Linked DNA regions of Homo sapiens. The protein of the gene in region 1 purifies or fractionates together with the protein of each later gene. This does not show direct contact. Each region holds a gene or a part of one and is shown in the gene's direction. Other genes may lie near its edges.

The links. The genes of interacting proteins can lie anywhere in the genome.
Region 2: the proteins of GGPS1 (region 1) and TUSC1 purify together in Homo sapiens (affinity purification with mass spectrometry; 3 studies listed by BioGRID and IntAct, with this or other methods). This does not show direct contact.
Region 3: the proteins of GGPS1 (region 1) and FAM120A purify together in Homo sapiens (affinity purification with mass spectrometry; 3 studies listed by BioGRID and IntAct, with this or other methods). This does not show direct contact.
Region 4: the proteins of GGPS1 (region 1) and SLTM purify together in Homo sapiens (affinity purification with mass spectrometry; 2 studies listed by BioGRID and IntAct, with this or other methods). This does not show direct contact.

The regions. Positions count from the first base shown.
Region 1 is NC_000001.11:235,331,098-235,336,247, forward strand, and holds part of GGPS1 (geranylgeranyl pyrophosphate synthase), read left to right. Parts: intron 1-4,144; 5' UTR 4,145-4,167; coding exon 4,168-4,237; intron 4,238-5,150. UniProt on the Homo sapiens protein: Catalyzes the trans-addition of the three molecules of IPP onto DMAPP to form geranylgeranyl pyrophosphate, an important precursor of carotenoids and geranylated proteins.
Region 2 is NC_000009.12:25,675,664-25,680,595, reverse strand, and holds TUSC1 (tumor suppressor candidate gene 1 protein), read left to right. Parts: upstream 1-2,151; 5' UTR 2,152-2,283; coding exon 2,284-2,913; 3' UTR 2,914-3,627; downstream 3,628-4,932.
Region 3 is NC_000009.12:93,457,340-93,462,489, forward strand, and holds part of FAM120A (constitutive coactivator of PPAR-gamma-like protein 1), read left to right. Parts: intron 1-5,150. UniProt on the Homo sapiens protein: Component of the oxidative stress-induced survival signaling. May regulate the activation of SRC family protein kinases. May act as a scaffolding protein enabling SRC family protein kinases to phosphorylate and activate PI3-kinase.
Region 4 is NC_000015.10:58,891,375-58,896,524, reverse strand, and holds part of SLTM (SAFB-like transcription modulator), read left to right. Parts: intron 1-1,942; coding exon 1,943-2,092; intron 2,093-2,331; coding exon 2,332-2,435; intron 2,436-2,537; coding exon 2,538-2,704; intron 2,705-3,160; coding exon 3,161-3,246; intron 3,247-3,464; coding exon 3,465-3,628; intron 3,629-5,150. UniProt on the Homo sapiens protein: When overexpressed, acts as a general inhibitor of transcription that eventually leads to apoptosis.

The DNA.
Region 1 (5,150 bases):
CTAAATAGGTTTTTGCCTAATAGGTATGTTGATTATTTCGCTTACTTGATTCTTTATGAGCCTTTTTTTCCTTGCGACGTCTTTGGTATTAATTGTTAGTCAAGATGGATGTAGAAATTTTCCATATGGGATGTTTCTCTTTGAATTCATGTTGTTAAAATGATTTCTTTTGGTGGAGTGCTGATCTTTTTTATGATTGTTTCATATAGATAAGAACAGACTACAAAAAAATATGCCTTTCAATCCTGAAGAGTAACCTGAACTATACACTAGTTTTGTGCTTTAATTTTCATTTGTAATCTGCCTTCAATAAAGAGTTAAGCTAGTGGAATTTATGTCTTAGCTTGTTATAACACAAACACGAATATTTGTCTGCTTGGCATTAAAGGGTAAAGATATTCCATAGCTGGGAATCTTAATCTGAGGTACGTGTAAACATTCAGGGACTATATGATCTCTGAGAATTTGTATGTTGTAAGTCTTTGTGGCAGTGTATACATTTGTGTTGCAACTTATTAACACATACACCGGGCTTTTTTTTTTTTTTTTAGAAGATTCATAGCTTTCATCATATTCTCAAAAGGTTTCTGTGACCCATGAGATGGTTTACAGTATGGGGAAGCATCAAAGCACTTGCACAGTTGATGGTTATATGTGTGTGTTATTATTTCAGCCACCCATTATCATGTGCTTACCAACTGCCTAACAGTGCATACATATGTAGAAGTTTTATTCTTTTCTCCTGTTGCCATATTATACGTCTCATTTCACAGCAGAAAAACAACTGCATGACAGAGACAATGTGGTTCAAACCATTTTACCCTTGTATTCATTGACTGCTACAAAACAGGAACATTAAATACCTGATTGTCACCAAATTGGGTAGTCTCAGCACTTCTACACTCGTAATTGTGCTGGAAAAGTGGAATGCTAGCACTAATAATTAGATTTTGGTTTGGAGGGTTTTTTATTTGTTTATTCTTACTTGTATAAATTTATGGGGTGCAAGTGTAGTTTTATCACATGCATAGATTGCATTGTAGTGAAGTCAGGACTTTTAGGGGGTCCATCACCCATGTAATCACGTTGTACCCATTAAGTAATCTTTCATCATCCACCTCCTTCCCACCTTCTCACCCTTTGGAATCTCCATTGTCTATCATTCCACACTCCATGTCCATGTATACACATTATCTAGCTCCCATTTATAATTGAGAAGATGTACTATTTGTCTTTTATGTCTGACTTGTTACACTTAAGGTAAGGGCTATCCATCCATTTTGCTGCAAATGACATGATTTCATTTTGTTTTAATGGCTGAGTAATCATTCGTTGTATATATACCACATTTTCTTTATTCAGTCATCTGCTGATGGACACTTAGGTTGATTCCATATCTTTACTATTGTGAATAGTGCTGTAATAAACACATAGTGCAAGATTTTGGAAATTTTACTTTTGTGGCACGTTGTTGGTATTTACTCAGGATCTTTGGATTTGCTTGGCTGCATGTATATGAATCAGTGTGTTTATTTACTGAAATATGTGCAAAAGTCTTGTCTTTGGTGGATTAATTTATAATATAAATCCACAAAAGTCAGATTCTGCTCCTAAGTATATTTTACATTTTTAAATTTAATGCCAGCAAGAAGTTACAGTACTAGAATTGCCTTACCCCTGAGAGTATCAATGATCAGATCATAGTATCAGGTGACTGGGCTATAGAAGATGACTTTTATTACTTAACATTATGAAGTTACTAGGGCTGATTTAGAAATCGAGGAACACTGGTGAAACCCCGTCTCTACTAAAATACAAAAATTAGCTGGGCGTGGTGGTGGGCACCTGTAGTCCCAGCTACTCAGAAGGCTGAGTCAGGAGAATTGCTTGAGCCCAGGAGGCAGAGGTTGCAGTGAGCCGAGATCGTGCCACTGCACTCCAGCCTGGGCGACAGAGTGAGACTCCGTCTCAAAAAAAAAAAAAAAAAAAAAAAAGGAACACATCCTCACTGTTACAATAAATAACAGTAGCCCACACCCCCTTAGTTGTGATGTGGTGTGATACCATGTAAGCAACCTATTTCCAGTTCCCCTAACATTCTCAAGCAGCTGTATCAGAATCATACAAGATGCATATTTAAATTGAAGATTTCTAAGTCTCTGGCCCAGACTTAGAAAAAAAGGATCAGGCCGGGCACAGTAGCTAACACCTGCAATTCCAACACTTTGGGAGGCTGAGGCGGGTGGATCGCCTGAGGTCAGGAGTTTTGAGACCAGCCTGGCCAACATAGTGAAACCCCATCTCTACTAAAAATTCAAAAAATTAGCTGGGCGTGGTGGCAAGAACCTGTAATCCCTGCTATTCGGGAGGCTGAGGCAGGGGAATCACTTGAACCCGGGAGGTGGAGGTTGCAGTGAGCCAAGATTGCGCCACTGCACTCCAGCCTGGGCAACGAGCAAAACTCCGTCTCAAAAAAAAAAAACAAAAGGACCTTTGAGCAATCAGAATAACACAAAGTACATGAACTGAACTTCATTTTCTTCATTCAAAAGAAAGTGGCCCTCACTCAAGCAAATATATTCTTGTGCTTTATCTTCTGGCATACTGAGATAACTTTCTAAAGTGGTTTCCAATTCCAAAATCCAATGATGTGCAACTCATTGAACAGCCCTAACCACAAACTGCCATTAGATGCCATATTACATTTAGCCTTTTTGTTGTAGAAAAGTTGGTTAGAAGTGGGCTCAGGATTCTAAAGACTAAATCATAGTCCCAAGAAGCAAAAGAAAGAGGATAAAAGTAATAAACTTCCCAAAATGTGCCAAAGATGCTAGAGCAGTTAGATTCCTAATATGAGGACAAGTAATAATAGAAACAGATACAAAGAAATAAAGTAGAGATTCAACAGTACAGGGAGACCCTAGGAAGACCATGAGTGTTATTCTAGGAAATACTGAAATAAGACAGATTTCAGTATAAAGGGGAATATGTTTAATAAATATATGCATTTGAGTTAATGCGTATTTTAAATCAGAAATCTCTGAAATGGATTGATTGTAGAGAAACTACTAGGGGGACGAGGAGAATCCCTTTAAATTTTAAATACATAAAACATACTCATCTTAGTGCTCATTTAAAAAAGGATATGTTTACTAATTAGTGTAATCAGTTAAATACAGAGGTATCTTTCCAATTCTTTGGATGTGTTTTGACATTTGCCGTCAACAAATTAAGCCTTTTGTGGTTGATTAAAATAGGAAAAGCTTAATATAAGTTATGTGACTAAGAAAACAACTTAAAAACCAAGACAACACTTTGACCAATATAATCACTTGAATGAAGAATTTTCTAATTGAGATATAATTTACATACCACCCATTTAAAGTGTACATTTCAGCAGTTTTTAGTGTATTCACAGGGCTGTGCAACCATCACAATTTAATTTTATAACATTTTGATCCCTGCGAAAAGAAACCCTGTACTCATTAGCAATTAGTCCCTGTTCCTAACCACTAATCTACTTTCTTTCTCTGTAGATTGGCTTATTCTGAACATTTCGTATAAATGGAATCATACAATATGTAGTCTCTTGAGATTGGCTTCTTTCACTTAACATGTTTTCAAGGCTTCATAGCTGTAGAATCTTGCTTTGTTTTTTTGAGACTGGAGTCACTCTTTCGCCCAGGCTGGAGTGCAGTGGTGTGATCTCAGCTCACTGCAACCTCTGCCTCCCGGGTTCAAGCAGTTCTCCTGCCTCAGCCTCCCAAGTAGCCAGAACTACAGGCACACACCACCATGCTCGGCTAATCTTTGTAGTTTTAGTAGAGATGGTGTGAAGGCTGGTCTCGAACTCCTGACCTCATGATCTACCCACCTCAGCTAATTTTTCATATTTTTAGTAGAGACAAGGTTTTGCCATGTTGCCCAGGCTGGTCTCGAACTCCTGGGCTTAAGCTATCCGCCCGCCTCAGCCTCCCAAAGTGCTGGGATTACAGGCGTGAACTACCGTGCCCAGCAACAGAATCTTCTTTTTAAACCAGACTAGGTGTCTTTTCACAAACACCCTGCAATACAAATTCCTTTGCAGTTTGACACTGAAAGATGATTAGTTTCATGTGATCTTTATGTTTCTCCTTTTTGACAGATTAGCTTTGAAGTTTAAATCCAATGGAGAAGACTCAAGAAACAGTCCAAAGAATTCTTCTAGAACCCTATAAATACTTACTTCAGTTACCAGGTAATACTTCACTTACAGTCCATATAGGGTCATTTTCATGCAGTAGTGGTCGTTCAAATGTTAGCAAATAGAAAAGGTTAGACTTGCTAGCCGTTGAGATTTTCTATTTAAGGTGATGCGTATGAGAAAAATGATAAATAGAACATTATAATTTTTTCTTTATTAAAAGGTAATTTTTGCCAGGTGCAGTGATACATACCTGTTGTCCCACCTACTTGGGAGGCTGAGGCAGGAGGATGGCTTGAGCCCAGGAGTTTAAGGCTATAGTGCACAATGATCACACCTGTGAATAGCCACTACACTCCAGCTTGGGCAACATAGTGAGACCCCGTCTCTTAAAAAGAAACGTAATTTTTGAAGGCACCCTTTAAAACATATCCAATTATTTAACATATCTTGAAAAATAAAAATACTTAAAACATTTTGGTATCTCATTGGAGGTTGTACTCTTTACGGATATTACGCATTCAGATTCCCCACTGTTTAGATATTAGGGGAAGTTACGCAGATTTGTTTAACAGTAGAACACTTTATTTACCATACATGTTCAAGTTTACCTTCTATGTCTGTATTTTCCAGTATCTCACACATACACTGCATTTCATATACTACTGGTTCCTTTGAGAGCCAAATAATAATGTATCTAAAATCACAGTATTTGGAAATATAGCCCACTTTATTCCTGTATAAGGGTATGCCACCTTGGACATGGCTTCCTACCTCACGTGTACGTGTGTGTTTTTGTTTTATTTTGCTTCTTTAAAAACTTGTCTGGAGGCTGGGCGTGGTGGCTCACGCCTGTAATCCCAGCACTTTTTGAGGCCAAGGCGGGCGGATCATGAGGTCAAGAGGTTGAGACCAGCCTGGCCAACATGGTAAAACCCCGTCTCTACTAAAAACACAAAAGTTAGCT
Region 2 (4,932 bases), on another chromosome or scaffold:
AAGCACTTATATACTTATTCTATATGTTTTAAGTATTATTGTAGTCTTGCATTTCTTTTAAATTTGATCAGTTCCGTATATTTTCCAAATTTTTTCCATTTTATTTTCATATATAGGTACATATTATTTGCCCAGTAATATTTTTATATGTAGACCATTAACAAACTACAGTGTGGAGAAGCATTTTTACTCTTTGTGCTACCATCCTCAGAAAAGCTGTAATTTTCATCTTCGAGTATATGATTCTTGACATATTATTCTAGGTAAATTAAAATAAATACAAGTATATACTTTTAGTACTAATCATTTTAATCACTCTGTTGTCTCAACTCCACTTTCAACTTAGAAATGACATTGTCTCTATGTCGTATTTGAAAGATTGGTGGACTCTCCATTAACAAATCATAAGACAAATGTTCACTGCTACATAAGACAGTCTTTATGAGTCTTAATACCTTTTTGTTGGATCGATTTTTTCCACATTTTTTTCTTTCCTTTTCTTCCAAACTTCCCTTTCTCCCTCTCTTCATCCCTTCCCCCTTCCTTATTTTTTGAGATAGGTCTCCTTTTGTCGCCCAGGATGGAGTACAATGGTGTGATCATAGCTCACAGCAGTCTTGCAGCCTCAACCTTAATGTAAATTAAGAATGATACAGTCCTTCTTGAGTCTCTTGAACCCGGAAGGTGGTGGTGGCAGTGAGCAGAGATGGCGCCATTGCACTCCAGCCTAGGCAACAAGAGCGAAACTCCCATCTCAAGAATGATATGCTCCTTTTTTTTTTTTTTTTTTTTTTTGAAAAGGAGCCTTGCTCTGTCGCCCAGGCTGGAGTGCAATGACGCAATCTCAGCTCACTGCAAACTCTGCCTCCCGGGTTCAAGTGATTCTCCTGCCTCAGCCTCCCGAGTAGCTGAGACTACAGGCCCGTGCCACCACGCCCGGCTAATTTTTGTATTTTTAGTAGAGACGGGGTTTCATTGTGTTAGCCAGGATGGTCTTGATCTCCTGACCTTGTGATCCTCCCGCCTCGGCCTCCCAAAGTGCTAGGATTACAGGCGTGAGCCACCACGCCCGGCCTGGAATGTGGTCCTTCTTAAAACTAAATTTATATTTTTTGAAATTCCAAAATTATATCTTTCATGTGATAAAATGAGATAATTGAGAACACATTTGGTGTTGTGGTCTCTTAAGATCTTGCCTAACAAAATAAAAGTACAAAAAAATTGAGCAAATATTTTCCCCTTATTTGTACTTGTCAATGAAGACCCCATGTATGTACTTATATGTTTTTCTTGTTCGTTACTTGCTCCAGTGGTTTGGAAATTTTGGTTATCCTGAGAATTCTCTGGGACCCTGTTAGACATGTAGATTCTTGCTAGGGCATACTTGCTTAAGAGATTCTGGCGTCAGTACCTAATCCTTAAATTACTTTGCAATCATCCAGTTACTATGTAGGTTGAGACCCTACAAGAAGGAATGATTCATTCAATGAGATGTACATCCTTGATCCCAGAAACTTTGGAACTAAGTATTCAGTTTCTTCAATAAACAGAGCACTTCTTGTTTCATAGCTTTTGGGGGTTGGCCTGAACAAATCAACTAAGTATGACCTAGTTTCTATAGCGTTCTGAACAATTTACAGAGTGAATTCCTGGCTGTTCACAAATTGGGAATTGACTGCATTCTTTGGAGAGCCAGGTGTTTCCACCGGGAAACCCCATGACAGGTACTCAGCCCAATTCTGTTTAATGTTTTATTAAACATAGGGGTGGGTTAAACCACTGGGTTTTAAATGAAGCACTTAGAGCTTTTCAACTTGCCCCATAGCTTTGTCTCAGAACCGATCATTCTATTATCATTAGTTTTGAGAATGCCGTGTAAAGAGCAAAGTAACCACTGGTGGTTGCACTCCGGAGCGGGCGAGGACGGCTAGTTCCTGCAGTGCCCAGGCCTGCACGGAAGCGCCCTGGCACAACTCAGCTGAGGATACACGCTTTTTCCCGCGCAGCCGGAGGGCTGAACAGCAAAGCACTCCCCGGGGGAACTGTGTGTCAGCGCAGCCTGGAGAGAGCAGGCCCAGGGGGCAGCTCCACCACAGGAGACAGGACACGCCTCAGTCTGGGCAAATTCCCGGCCTCCTTTGGCTCTAAGCCAGCAGCCGCCGCCCGCGACCTCCTCTCCTCCTCCGTCGTCACCCCGGCCGCCCTGCCAGCCCCGAACTTGCCCGCGCCTGGCCGCGCGGCCCCTCAGCCCACGGGGCTGGCGGCGCGGTTGGGATGGGACCGATGTGGCGCATGCGTGGTGGCGCCACTAGGCGCGGGAGTTGCTGCGGCGGGGACGGTGCTGCGGACGGCCGAGGGCCAGGCCGCTCCGGCCGGGCTCGTGGTGGGGGCAGCCCCAGCGGCGGCGGCGGCGGCGTGGGCTGGCGAGGCCGCGCGGACGGCGCCCGACAGCAGCTGGAGGAGCGGTTTGCCGACCTGGCGGCGAGCCACTTGGAGGCCATCCGTGCGCGGGACGAGTGGGACCGGCAGAACGCGCGGCTGCGTCAGGAGAACGCCCGGCTGCGGCTCGAGAACCGGCGGCTGAAGCGCGAGAACCGCAGCCTCTTCCGTCAGGCTTTGCGGCTCCCCGGCGAAGGCGGCAACGGGACGCCCGCGGAGGCACGCCGGGTCCCTGAAGAGGCCAGCACGAACCGGAGGGCTAGAGACAGCGGCCGAGAGGACGAGCCGGGCAGCCCCAGGGCCCTGAGGGCCCGACTTGAGAAGCTGGAAGCCATGTACCGCCGGGCCCTGCTGCAGCTGCACCTCGAGCAGCGGGGACCACGTCCGAGCGGGGACAAGGAGGAGCAGCCTCTACAGGAACCCGACTCCGGCCTCCGCTCCCGGGACTCGGAGCCCTCTGGGCCCTGGCTGTAGCCGAGGCCGCAGCCGGTGAGAGGCGGAGCCTCGAGCGGGCCCCTCCTCCTCCGTTCCCAGCTACCCCCGACCTCGCGCACGCCCTGGCCCGCTCCCTGCCCGCGGATACCTTGGACTACGGTGCCTTCCCGCCCCCACCAGTGGACACTTCCGGGTGGCGCTTGGCCATCCGCTTGGTGGAGGTCGAGTGGGTGCAAGGGCCCTCAGGACCTCCCACATGTACAGTTCCCCTGCCTCTTGCCCCGGCTAGTTTCCCTGGAGAGAGGCCTAGCCAACAACGAAGGGACGGATTTTAAAACAGCGAGAACTGGGTGCCAAGAAACACTTCATATTCCCTGAACTTTTCTGGATGTTGTGCGAACCTGTTGTATTTTTTTTTTTCCTGTATTTTGGTTCTGAGGGATGAGTAATGTGTTTTTAGTTGGTTGAGTTTATCCATTCTTCAATCCCCTAAAGCCTTCAGCTATTCTTTCATATGTGGCCAACATTTTAAGTACAGTGTTTGCTTTTATAAGTCGGTGTTACTTGGATGTCCTATAAAATACCCACTTTTTATAAAGATGATATTTATAACCTAGGAACTCATGCCTGTCTTGGCTGCAGTCCCTGTACATCTAATATATACTGATTTGTTTGCCCCCAGAGAATTTTTAAGGTATCTGCCTATATCGTGATCTTTTGAAATGGTAAATAAATCTGGTGCATTAAAAATTATCTGAAAGGTTGCGGCGAGTATTATTTGAAGTGTGTTACATTTTTATATTTTTAAAAAGATACCTTTATGAATATACTAATTTAAATCTGGTTTTAGTTGTCCTTAGTAAACTATCATGTTCTTTTAGCTTCATGTAACAGTGATCTTTTAAAATAATCTAAAGATTAGGTAGTCTAAAAGTTATTTTAATCTTTAATGTTCAATTAGCTTAATTAGTACGTAGATAATTTGCCTTATTTTGACTAAGGACTTTTAAGAAATTATAAATTACTTGTATATCAAAAGTTCCCCTAACAAAGTAATTTAAGTCTCAGTTGTTATTTCAATGGCACAAAAAAGTGACTAGTTTAGCAATAAATGTCCTAAAATTACTTTTATTGCGCTTCGTTAATAACACTTTTGCCAACTAAGTAATGAAGAGGATACCATTGTGCCTGATAAAAAAATCATAGGTCCAAGAGTGTTTCAATGATGGAAAACATTTCAGGGGAAAAAATCATGAATAGAATTGTCAAGGGAATAAAATATACTAGTTATGGCATAGTCCAAAAGTATTAAATATTATATATTACAAAACAATGTTTCAGTCGTGTCCGTGTGAAGAGACCACCAAACAGGCTTTTTGTGAGCAACAAGGCTGTTTATTTCACCTGGGTGCAGGCGGGCTGAGTCCGAAAAGAGTCAGTGAAGGGAGATAGGGGTGGGGCCGTTTTATAAGTTTTGGGTAGGTAAAGGAAAATTACAGTCAAAGGGGGGTTGTTCTCTGGCAGGCAGGAGTGGGGGGGTCACGAGGTGCTCAGCAGGGGAGCTTTTGAGCCAGGATGAGCCAGGAGAAGGAATTTCACAAGATAATGTCATCAGTTAAGGCAGGAACAGGCCATTTTTCACTTGTTGTGTGGTGGAATGTCGTCAGTTAAGGAAAGAACCAGCCATCTGGATGTGTACATGTGGGTCACAGGGGACATGATGGCTTAGCTTGGGCTCAGAGGCCTGACACAATGTACCAGGAAAACAAGTTTTGTGATTTTTCAAGTTCTGGGTTATGAAGACACTATATTTTGCTTAAAGGTAATTGATATTCAGATGTGAATATTAGAATCTTCCCCTATGGCCAAAAAATATAAGGAACTTGTTGAGAAGAGGTAGGTATATGAAAATAAATTATATTCCCCTTCACTTCATTTTCTAAGAATGAAAGAAATACAGTGATGTACTGCCTAACCAACATTTCAGTCAGGAATGCGCTGCTTATATGATGATGGTCCCGTAAGATTATAATACTGTTATTTTTATTGTAGCTTTTC
Region 3 (5,150 bases), on another chromosome or scaffold:
GGCCATATATTTTATGTCATAAGTTATATAATATATATTATTATAATATAGTTCCATTTTTTCACATTAATGTGATTGCACTATACGTTATTCAGCAGTTTGCTTTTTTATTTGTAAGAAATCTTTCCATGTCTATACTTAGAGCTCTAAGTCTTTTCAGTCCCTAAATAGTATTCCATAATTTATCCAACCCCGACAGATGGTATACACATGATATATACACACAGTAGAGCTAAAGGTATGCACATTTTAAAAGCCACGTAGGACCATAGAGTCAACATTACCAGAACTTCAGACTTTGCAAGAAAGCCAGAAACCCAGATTTTTAAAAAAATTATTCCATTTTAAAAATGCCAAGCGAAGGAAAACTTGGTTCTAAGTTAGCTTCAGCTCTTGTGCCACCAATTTGTTATTTGAGCACTGATCTTTATCAACAATTATCATGGTCATCTAAATCTCTTCCTTTTTTTTTTTTTTACTTTAAAATTAAACCTATCAAAAACCACTCTGTCTTTTCCTGTCTGCCTCCTTGAACCTTTTTCAATGATCAAAATGCTTCCATTTCCTGGGGTTACTGCAATATGATGTTTCCTTAAATGCCACAATCCTCTTGGCCACTTCCATAGTATATTCTTCATTATATACTTCTCAATATTACATATTTTGAGGTGAGTGCTAACCCACATGTTTATTTGACATCTCACCATTTCCAAGGCACAGCCTCACTGTCCTCAAACACTTCAGCACCTGGTTTTACATTCTTATATATTATTTATACTGTGTCCCATCAACACAGACACTGACTCTTCACCTCTCTCATCTGGCATCCTGATTCTGCAACTGGAGTGAATTTCTAATTGCACTTTAGATACTCCAGAGCTTGGACCGTATAATTAGTGAGAAAAGTGACCCCACCTTTAACACTTCTGAACGCTGTGTCCCTGTCACTCCTTGCCGCTCCCACCGTCTGTCCCCTGCTTGCCTTCCGCCATTTCTCTTTTCCCATTCTGTTGGCTTCCTTTTTAGCTGTAACTAGCTTGAACTTCATGATCATTCACTTCAGAGTTACACCCTCTACCACCATAGAGTCATGCTTGGTATTCCAGCATCCCATCCTCCCAGTCCCTAGAATAATGACACACCAGGCCAATTCTGGCTCAGTAGTCTCCTACTTAACTGTTATACTCTTCCTTTTTTCCAGTACCCCCAACATTTGAATTCACCATATTTATCCAAAAGGTCGAAGAAATGCTTTGCAAACCCTTCAGTGGGTTGTGAAACCAAATTATTGGATGTTTGCCATTACTTAAAAATAACGGAGTAAAATAGAATGAAAAATAGAATGCAAGGCATATACTATAGGTAAATTCCATGTCATTACACTTTTGTATTACTGTGGGTAGCAGTAAGAATGGCCTCTGCACCTACCCCCGCGCCCCAGTGGAACTAATCTTGCACAGCTTTGGCAGGGTAGACGGCCACATCTTCAGGGAGGTCACTCTCCTGTTGGGACTTGAACAAAACCATTAAGTCCAAATTCCTTATTCAGACTTGTAGACCTTCCTGCGACCTGAACTCATTTGACCTTACTTAATGTTTCACAATCCCTCTACTGTACTTTTTAAAATGTTCCCAACCCAACTGGTCACTATTTCCCCAAGAAATATCCAGTTTCTGCTTATGTCATTCCCTCTTGTTTAACTACTGTACTGTGTCCTACTTTTGCTCATCAAAATTTTACTTACACTTCAAAGCCCATGTCAAATGCCAGCCTTCTTCATGGAATCTCTTGATATTTGAAAAAGTGGACTGGGAATACACACACAGCATGGTGTATGTTTGCAGTGGACATTCTAGTCTGTTGTATTGCACCTACCTGCATAACTGCATATTTACCTCCCCCAGCCACCCGTAGGCTCCTTGAGGCCAGGGACTGTTTTACTCCTCTTGTACCCCATTATGCTTAGCATAGGCACTCAACTCTAATCAGAATATTTGCTGCATTCCATTATATAGCCAGACAAATTAAATTATTTCAAAATCTGGATCAATGGCCATTACTTAAGTTTTGTTTTGTTTTTTTAATCTTAAATTTCTCATACTCTCTTTTCTGACTGGTTCCCAATGGTGATTGATTCTCCTTTCAGCAAATGTTTGAGCACCTGTTAATGCCCAGGCCTGGAGGAGTGAACAGAACAGGAAAGGAAGGAAACCTTCAGGGAGCCTATAGCCTCTGGGTTGAGGAGGTTCATTTAAATCCTTTTTTTCTTGTTTGGAACTTTCTTTAATACTGTAGAACAATATGTTTACTCAGTGAAGACCTGTGAGTGGCTCTCAAGTAGGGTTGACAGTTGAGACATTTGGCAGGGGACATTTGGCAGTGCCTGGAGGCATTTTTGGTTGTCACAGCTGGGGGAGGATGTTAACTGAAGGCATCTATTGGGTGGAGGCCAAGGATGCTGCCAAACATTCTACAGTGCACAGAACAGCCCCCATAGCAAAGAATAATGTGGCCTAAAATACCAGTAGTGCCAAGGTAAGGAAATCTTGGTATGAGCAAATCAAAGAATTATAAGCTTTATGCCTTTGTAAAGTCATATAAATGTTTGCGATAGAGATGTCCAAGTACACCAGGAAGAAAGTAATCAAAACTACAACTTAATTTTCTGAATCAAAATACACGCAGGTATACTTCCTCCTATGTCTAACATGTTTAGATCGACATTGTTCTTCATTTTAGTTTTCTGAAATTTATATGAATAGGAAGAAACTAATTAACACATATTACACATTCCAACCTTAATAAGCACTACACCATAGGAATAAATGTCAAATATCGCGTAACATGAAGAAGAGAGATTTTAGGATTTGAAAACTTAGACTACTTTCCAGTAGATTTATAGGCAGAATTTTCTAAATAAAACAGGCATTTAAATGAATCACAGTTCAGATAAAAATATTCTTAAATTATCTAAATGTCTCCATATAGTTCATCGTTTATTTCCTTTTCGCTTTTTTTTGAGATGAAGTCTCACTCTGTTGCCCAACCTGGAGTGCAGTGACACAATCTCAGCTGACTGCAACCTCCACCTCCCAGGTTCAAGTGATTGTCCTGCCTCAGCCTCCCAAGTAGCTGGGATTACAGGCACGCCATGCCCAGCTAATTTTTGTATTTTTAGTAGAGACAGGGTTTCACTATGTTGGCCAGGCTGGTCTCGGACTCCTGACCTCGTGATCCACCCGCCCTGGCCTCCCAAAGTGCTGGGATTACAGGCATTAGCCACTATGCCTGGCCCTATTTTTGCTTATTTTTATGTTTTCTCTAGAAGTAAATCTGATGAAGACCTTGCCTGTTATCCAGCTCTTAGAGCGATGCTTGGTGTGTAGTACATGCTCAGAAAATATTTGATAAATGGATATGAATCACCAGTTACAGGCAAGGAAGTGTGATGGCAGAAAGATGGTAGGAAGCAGAAGTTTTAAAGTCCCCCTAGAGTTAATTCCAAAATCACTGGTGTCAGCTTGGCCACCTGGTGCAGAGCTTTTATCTTTGAGTAAACCTTTTATGCTTCTTAACTTAGGAGATGTGTTGAGGGCATAAAATGGGTGACTGCTTCAGGAAATGGGCTGCATTTAGCCACCTTTCCTCTTGTTACACCTGGCTTTATCACACATTGTTTCTAGGCATCTTAGGGGACAGTGTAAAAGAGTTGAACTTGACCCACTGCAGTATTTGTAGAGGTGATGGTCAATCTGCATTATGGAGTTTAGGATCTGTGATTTAGAAACGGTACTTTTATGCGCCAGTCATTTGGCATTTCTCAGTTGTCTCTGGAATCAATTAACTTTCTTGAAAGGATGAATTTACCATGTTGGTGTTTTACTGGTTAGTGCAGGAAAGTATACTAGAGGGTTTATTGCTGGAGGGTTGACTTCACAGGTCTGAAGTACATCATTCATCCTCTGAGGTAGAGCACATTTATGAATAGTAGTAACAAGCCAGCCCAGACTGTTGGAGGGGGTCACTAGACTCCATGGATGAGGTGTTTTAATTTCCTGGACCTATGAAGAGTTTGCAAGTGTTACTATCTTGAAATAAATAGTATCAACCTGTGGTTCTTTTTCCTAAATTATGAAAATTGAAATTTTATGTTTTAGATTTTGGAATGGTATTTTAATAAGAATGATATTACTAGGATTTAGCTGAGTCATTAGATTACTAGAGTAGGCTAAATAGATTCTGAATACAAATAATGTGTGTGTTTCTTCCTTTTATCATTGTATTTTTTTATTTTTAAAGTTTGTAAAGTTTAATTTGCATTTCTTTTATGACATCACTCCTTTATTATTATTAATATTTTTAGAGGGAAAAATCAAGCAGTTTTATAATTCGAACATCCCAAATCTGAAATGCTCCAAAATTCAAAACTTTTTGAGCACCAGCATGATGCACAAAGGAAATGCTCACTGGAGCATTTTGGATTTTTGATTTTTGAATTTAGAATGTTCAACTGGTAAGCATAATAACAAATATTCCAAAACTTGAAAAAGCCTGAAATCCAAAACACTTCTTGTCTTAAGTGTTTCAGTAAAGGACACCTAACCTGTATTATTGAATAACCATTGAACCAGACTGTGATCACATCACAAGCAGTGTGTGCTAAAGAGATTGCGAAAGCCAAAAAGAAGTGTCACCCTTTGATACAGCCTGGCAGATACAAACTATTACATACATCCTAATTGTCGTTAATCAAAGGAAAAGGAAAACTCTGCCTTTTTACAAGTAGGAAGTTAATTTTGGAGCCAAAGCACCTAGGCCTTCTGAGAAGACAGGGAGATACCCTTCTTTTTATTATTATTGTTTCTTAAAATTGTGGTAAAATACACCTAACATAAAATTTACCAATTTAACCATTTTTAAATGTACAGTTCAGTGGCATTAAGTATATATATTTTTTTGAGATGGAGTCTCGCTCTGTCACCAAGGCTGTAGCGCAGTAGCGTGATCTCAGCCCACTGCAACCTCTGCCTCCCGGGTGCAAGCAGTTCTGCCTCAGCCTCCTGAGTAGCTGGGATTACAGGCGTGCGCCTGCCACCACACCCAGCTAATTTTTGTATTTTTAGTAGAGACAGGGTTTCACCATCTTGGC
Region 4 (5,150 bases), on another chromosome or scaffold:
TAGCAGCGTGATGTGGGCTCACTGCGACCTCTGCCTCCCAAGTTTAAACGATTCTCATGCCTCAAGCCTACCTAGTAACTGGGATTACAGGCATGAGCAACTGCACTGGGCTAATTTTTGTATTTTTAGTAGAGATGAGTTTTTCACTATGTTGGCCAGGCTGATCTCAAACTCCTGGCTTCAGGTGATCCACCAGTCTCAGCCTCCCAAAGTGCTGGGGTTACAGGTGTGAGCCATCGCACCACGCCTAAATATATAAACCTAATCAGAAGTTGTTATAAGTCTTGTGAAGGAAAAGTACACAGGTGTTAAAAAGGGGAGGCTTTCCTGTGGTTAGTTCATCAGGAAAAGTTTCTCTGGCAGTTAAGGGGAGACCTAAAGGAAGAGAAGGAGTAGTCAAAGAATACTCAATTAATAACAAATGCTTTGAATTGTGAGCCGCATCCCTGACGGCTCTCAATACTGTCTACTTACATTATAGTTTTTCATATACATCAAATAGTTAATGTACTCCAGTGTAAGCTTTTTGAGGTCAGGGACCTTATTTAGTGTACTTCATGTGCACATGATAGGCTTTCAGATATTGAAATTACTGAATTAGTGACCATTATTGGTAAATAGCCATTAATATTACCAAAACCTGTCCTCTTGATTTTTGGAGGGTTTTTTTCCTGCTTCAATTAGTGAGTTGCCTGAGTGTAAAGGAGGTTCTTGTAGGTGTCAGAAATAGAACACTGAGAATTGTAGTCCCATGATAGGCTGTGTTATATTTTTTCTTCTGTTTTCAATAATGTATTGTTAGAGATGTGAAAACAATATTTTAATGTTGGTATTTATTAGTAGTAAAACTATATGAGGATACCATTTATTTGGTAAGAAGACCCGTGGAGTTAAAAAATAAATGGCTATGGAGCAAATCAGCCTTTCCTAGGGTTGAGGTAAAAGTTGATTTGTTCCAGCCACCCATACCATAAAACTCCTGATTTTCCTGTTTACTTCTTCCCAGCTTTATGTCTTTACTCTTCTTTGTTCAGCACCGAATCGTTCTCTCTCTTTTCTTCTCACTCATCCATCCCTGCTTTGTCTCTCTTAACTAACCATCTTACACAATTGCAATTATTTGTCATGTTCATATACGTTTTAAAAGCACATAGATTGAAAGTGTTGTCTTTCAAGCTTTAGGGTGTTTTTCGGGGGATGCATTTTTAAGTCCGCTTTTTTATATGTGATTGGTTCTTTACTCATTATAGAAAAGTGTTAACACTCATCAATAAAATACTAGAAACTTTCTCTAAAGACATTCAGGGTGGGCCTATGATAGGGATATTTTGGTTCAAATCCAATTTATTTGCTTTTATTAATTGTGCCATTACTTCATTGATGAGATTGTGTTTTGGCTACATATTTGAGGGGAGGAAATAAATATAAAAAGGTTAAATTGCTTTTTGGCACTTTAAATTGTTCCCCTGAATATTTACTAAGATGGGTAACGTAGATGGTGATCACAAGAATATGAAATAGGCTGGCTGCAGTGGCTCATGCTTGTAATCCCAGCACTGTGGGAGGCCGAGGTAGGCCGATCACCTGAGGTCAGGCCTTTGAGACCAGCCTGGCCAACATGGCAAAACCCTATCTGTACTAAAAATACAAAACTTAGCAGGGCATGGTGGTGCATGCCTGTAATCCCAGCTACTTGAGAGGCTGAAGGAGGGGAATTGCTTGAACCCAGAAGGCAGAGGTTGCAGTGAGCTGAGATCACACCACTGCACTCCAGCCTGCGTGACAGAGTGTGACTCCATCTCAAAAAAAAAAAAAAAAACATGAGACAGAATAAGATACACCCTGAATTAATATATAGTTTCAGTTGTGAAGTTTCATGTATTTAGAAGTCTGTGTACTTGGAACGTTGTAAAACTCTCTAAAGTACAGTCTGATTTTATAGGTTCTGAGTGCAAAAGTAGTTACAAATGCTCGAAGTCCTGGGGCAAAATGCTATGGCATTGTAACTATGTCTTCAAGCACAGAGGTGTCCAGGTGTATTGCACATCTTCATCGCACTGAGCTGCATGGACAGCTGATTTCTGTTGAAAAAGTAAGCTTCCCTAACTGTTTATCAAAGCAAGTCTAATTTGATGGCTAGTTCTCAACTCATAGCTGTTAACAGTAGCAGGGAGTAGAATTTGCAGTGATTTTTAATTTTTATGTATTTGTAGTTTTTACTCTCCTTATATTTTTCCTATCGTTTCCAAATTTTCTGCCATTAGCACACTTCTTATAATCACAAAAATGTAACCATATGTACAAATTGTTTTTCTGGTTCGAACCTTTCAGGTAAAAGGTGATCCCTCTAAGAAAGAAATGAAGAAAGAAAATGATGAAAAGAGTAGTTCAAGAAGTTCTGGAGATAAAAAAAATACGAGTGATAGAAGTAGCAAGTAAGGATTTATTTTTATTTATTTATTTTGATAAGCAGATAGACTTTTTTGGTACATTATGAAGTACTCATTCTGTTTTTTTGTCTGGGGCGGTATGGTCAGGACACAAGCCTCTGTCAAAAAAGAAGAGAAAAGATCGTCTGAGAAATCTGAAAAAAAAGAAAGCAAGGATACTAAGAAAATAGAAGGTAAAGATGAGAAGAATGATAATGGAGCAAGTGGCCAAACATCAGAATCGATTAAAAAAAGTGAAGAAAAGAAGCGAATAAGTATGCTATACATCTTTTCAATCCCTTTCTAATGCATTCTACTACTTAATTTTTACAGTGGAAGGGAAAACCTGAAATTCTAATCCAGATATAAGCTTTGTTGTTAGGTGTCATTGTGGTAGGAAAGGAGGTCTAGTAGGAGTAATTGTCTTCTTTTCTACTCTGGGGAAACAAACAAATGTATTCTTCCAGCTAAGCTCCTTTGCTATTCTGGGCTGACTTAAAATGGTCATTGATTAGTACTATTGAATTAGGATCTTTTGGTATCACTGAAAGTATTTATGTTAGCAGACTGAACTGTTTAAAAAACTCTTTGCATTGAAGTTCTTGTAGAATAAGTAGTTTTTTTATTTCATGTATTGGTGTGTGACTATCAGAATTTAGCATTTTTACATACATATTTTCTTTCTCAATGAAAAATTTTAGACATTGTTTTATATAATTTTTTTCCCTTAGGTTCCAAGAGTCCAGGACATATGGTAATACTAGACCAAACTAAAGGAGATCATTGTAGACCATCAAGAAGAGGAAGATATGAGAAAGTAAGTCTCTGATCAGGATGGTTGTATACTACTTCAGCTGTTTACAAAAGAAGATAATTCTGTTTTTCCATAACCATCTTTGCGTACTTGCATGCTAGCAAACCCAAGAAAAAGGAAATGTTACTAGTCATTTGAACTTTTTAAATGACCTACTAAACTTGAAAAATAAAGCCCCAAAATATTTTAATTTCTAGTGTTCTTCTAATTTTTTTCTACAGATTCATGGAAGAAGTAAGGAAAAGGAGAGAGCTAGTCTAGATAAAAAAAGAGATAAAGACTACAGAAGGAAAGAGATCTTGCCTTTTGAAAAGATGAAGGAACAAAGGTTGAGAGAACATTTAGTTCGTTTTGAAAGGCTGCGACGAGCAATGGAACTTCGAAGGTAGGAAGAGAGTCTGTTTTATACCTGTCTTTAAATATAGGTAAATATTTAACACTAGTTGTAAGCCATATTTCTGGAAATTGTATTCCCACAGAAAACTGTTTGCCACCTTAAAGAAGTTACGGTAGCATCTAATGATTTCTTAAGTTTGCATAGCACTTTACAATTTACAAAGTGCTTTTCCATCTGTTGTCTCCAACTCAACAGTTCTGTAAGGCTAGTTATGCCCATTATACAATTGAAAAAAATGGAGGCCCAGAGAGGCTAAATGACTCTTCCAATGGCCACATGGCTAACAAGTGGCAGAGTCGGGACTCAGACCCAAGTCTTCTGACTCCAAGTCCAATGCTCTTTCCTCAACACCAAAGCTGCTGCCATAAAAAACATGACTTCAAAGGAAAAATTTGAGATAAGATAGTTTCAAAGTAGCTACAGTGTTCAAATACTGTAATCTGAAATTTTAACAAATTTAGCAAAAATTTATTGTTTGCATTAGTGCCTAAGAGAAGGAAGATTTGCCCTGTGAGCCTAATGGTATTCGGATTATATCCCAAAGCAAGCATTCTCTTTAAAACAAACGGAAAATATAAACAAAGCAAGATGTTTCCATTTTTAGTGGCCATATCTCAACAGTTCACGAGTGTCAGTTTACTTTTGTATATCAATTTTTGGATGCCACTTAAAATAGTCTTGTGGGTGTGTTTTATAGTATATTATTTCAAATGTTAAGCTGTCTTGTCCAGGGGTTACTTATCATGGGATTTCATCCATTCATTGACGACAGCGTTAGGAACTACCAGAGATACTTTTAGCAACTTAGATTATTCTGTACAATAATTGACACACAACTTTACTAAAAGGAAGTAATCCTTGTAGCACATAGAACCCATTTTCTCTTTTTTAAGATGAAGTCCAAATGTGCCTAGCTTCCTGTGTATTTAGTTGACAACAGATTGAGAGGAGAGTGGGATTGAGGAGCAACTAGACCAGTGATTCTCAAACCCTATGTGACCAAATTCCCTTTTATATTAAAAAAAGTTGCAATGCCTTTACTCTCCTGAAATGAAATTGATGTATAACATACTTAAGCTATACTAACAATTTCAAAAAAAGAAAAAAATGTAATGGCTTAACTATAATATAAAGGAGAAATAAAAGTAATTTATAATAAAAATATGTATTCCAGATATGAAGGTTTAGGCATGACTTAATGAAGTAGTCAGATGTTTGCATCCCTATTTAGACTCACTGAGAATGGGACAGCTTCAAATACAGACTGACGTTGTATGTCATTTAATATGTTGTATTGGTTAGTAAATACCAGAAGTAGTGTTGACATTATGACATGATTTCTGAAATGGTGAGCAACTCTTGGTAAAAGTCGCAAGAAAGTATAATTTTCCTTCTATTTATATGGAGTTGCATTATTGGAAATTCTAGATTATAGAAATAATATCAAAGCAAACAGTATTTATTAAAAATGGGGTTGAGTTCTAGACTGACATATTATTTTTGCTTAAGG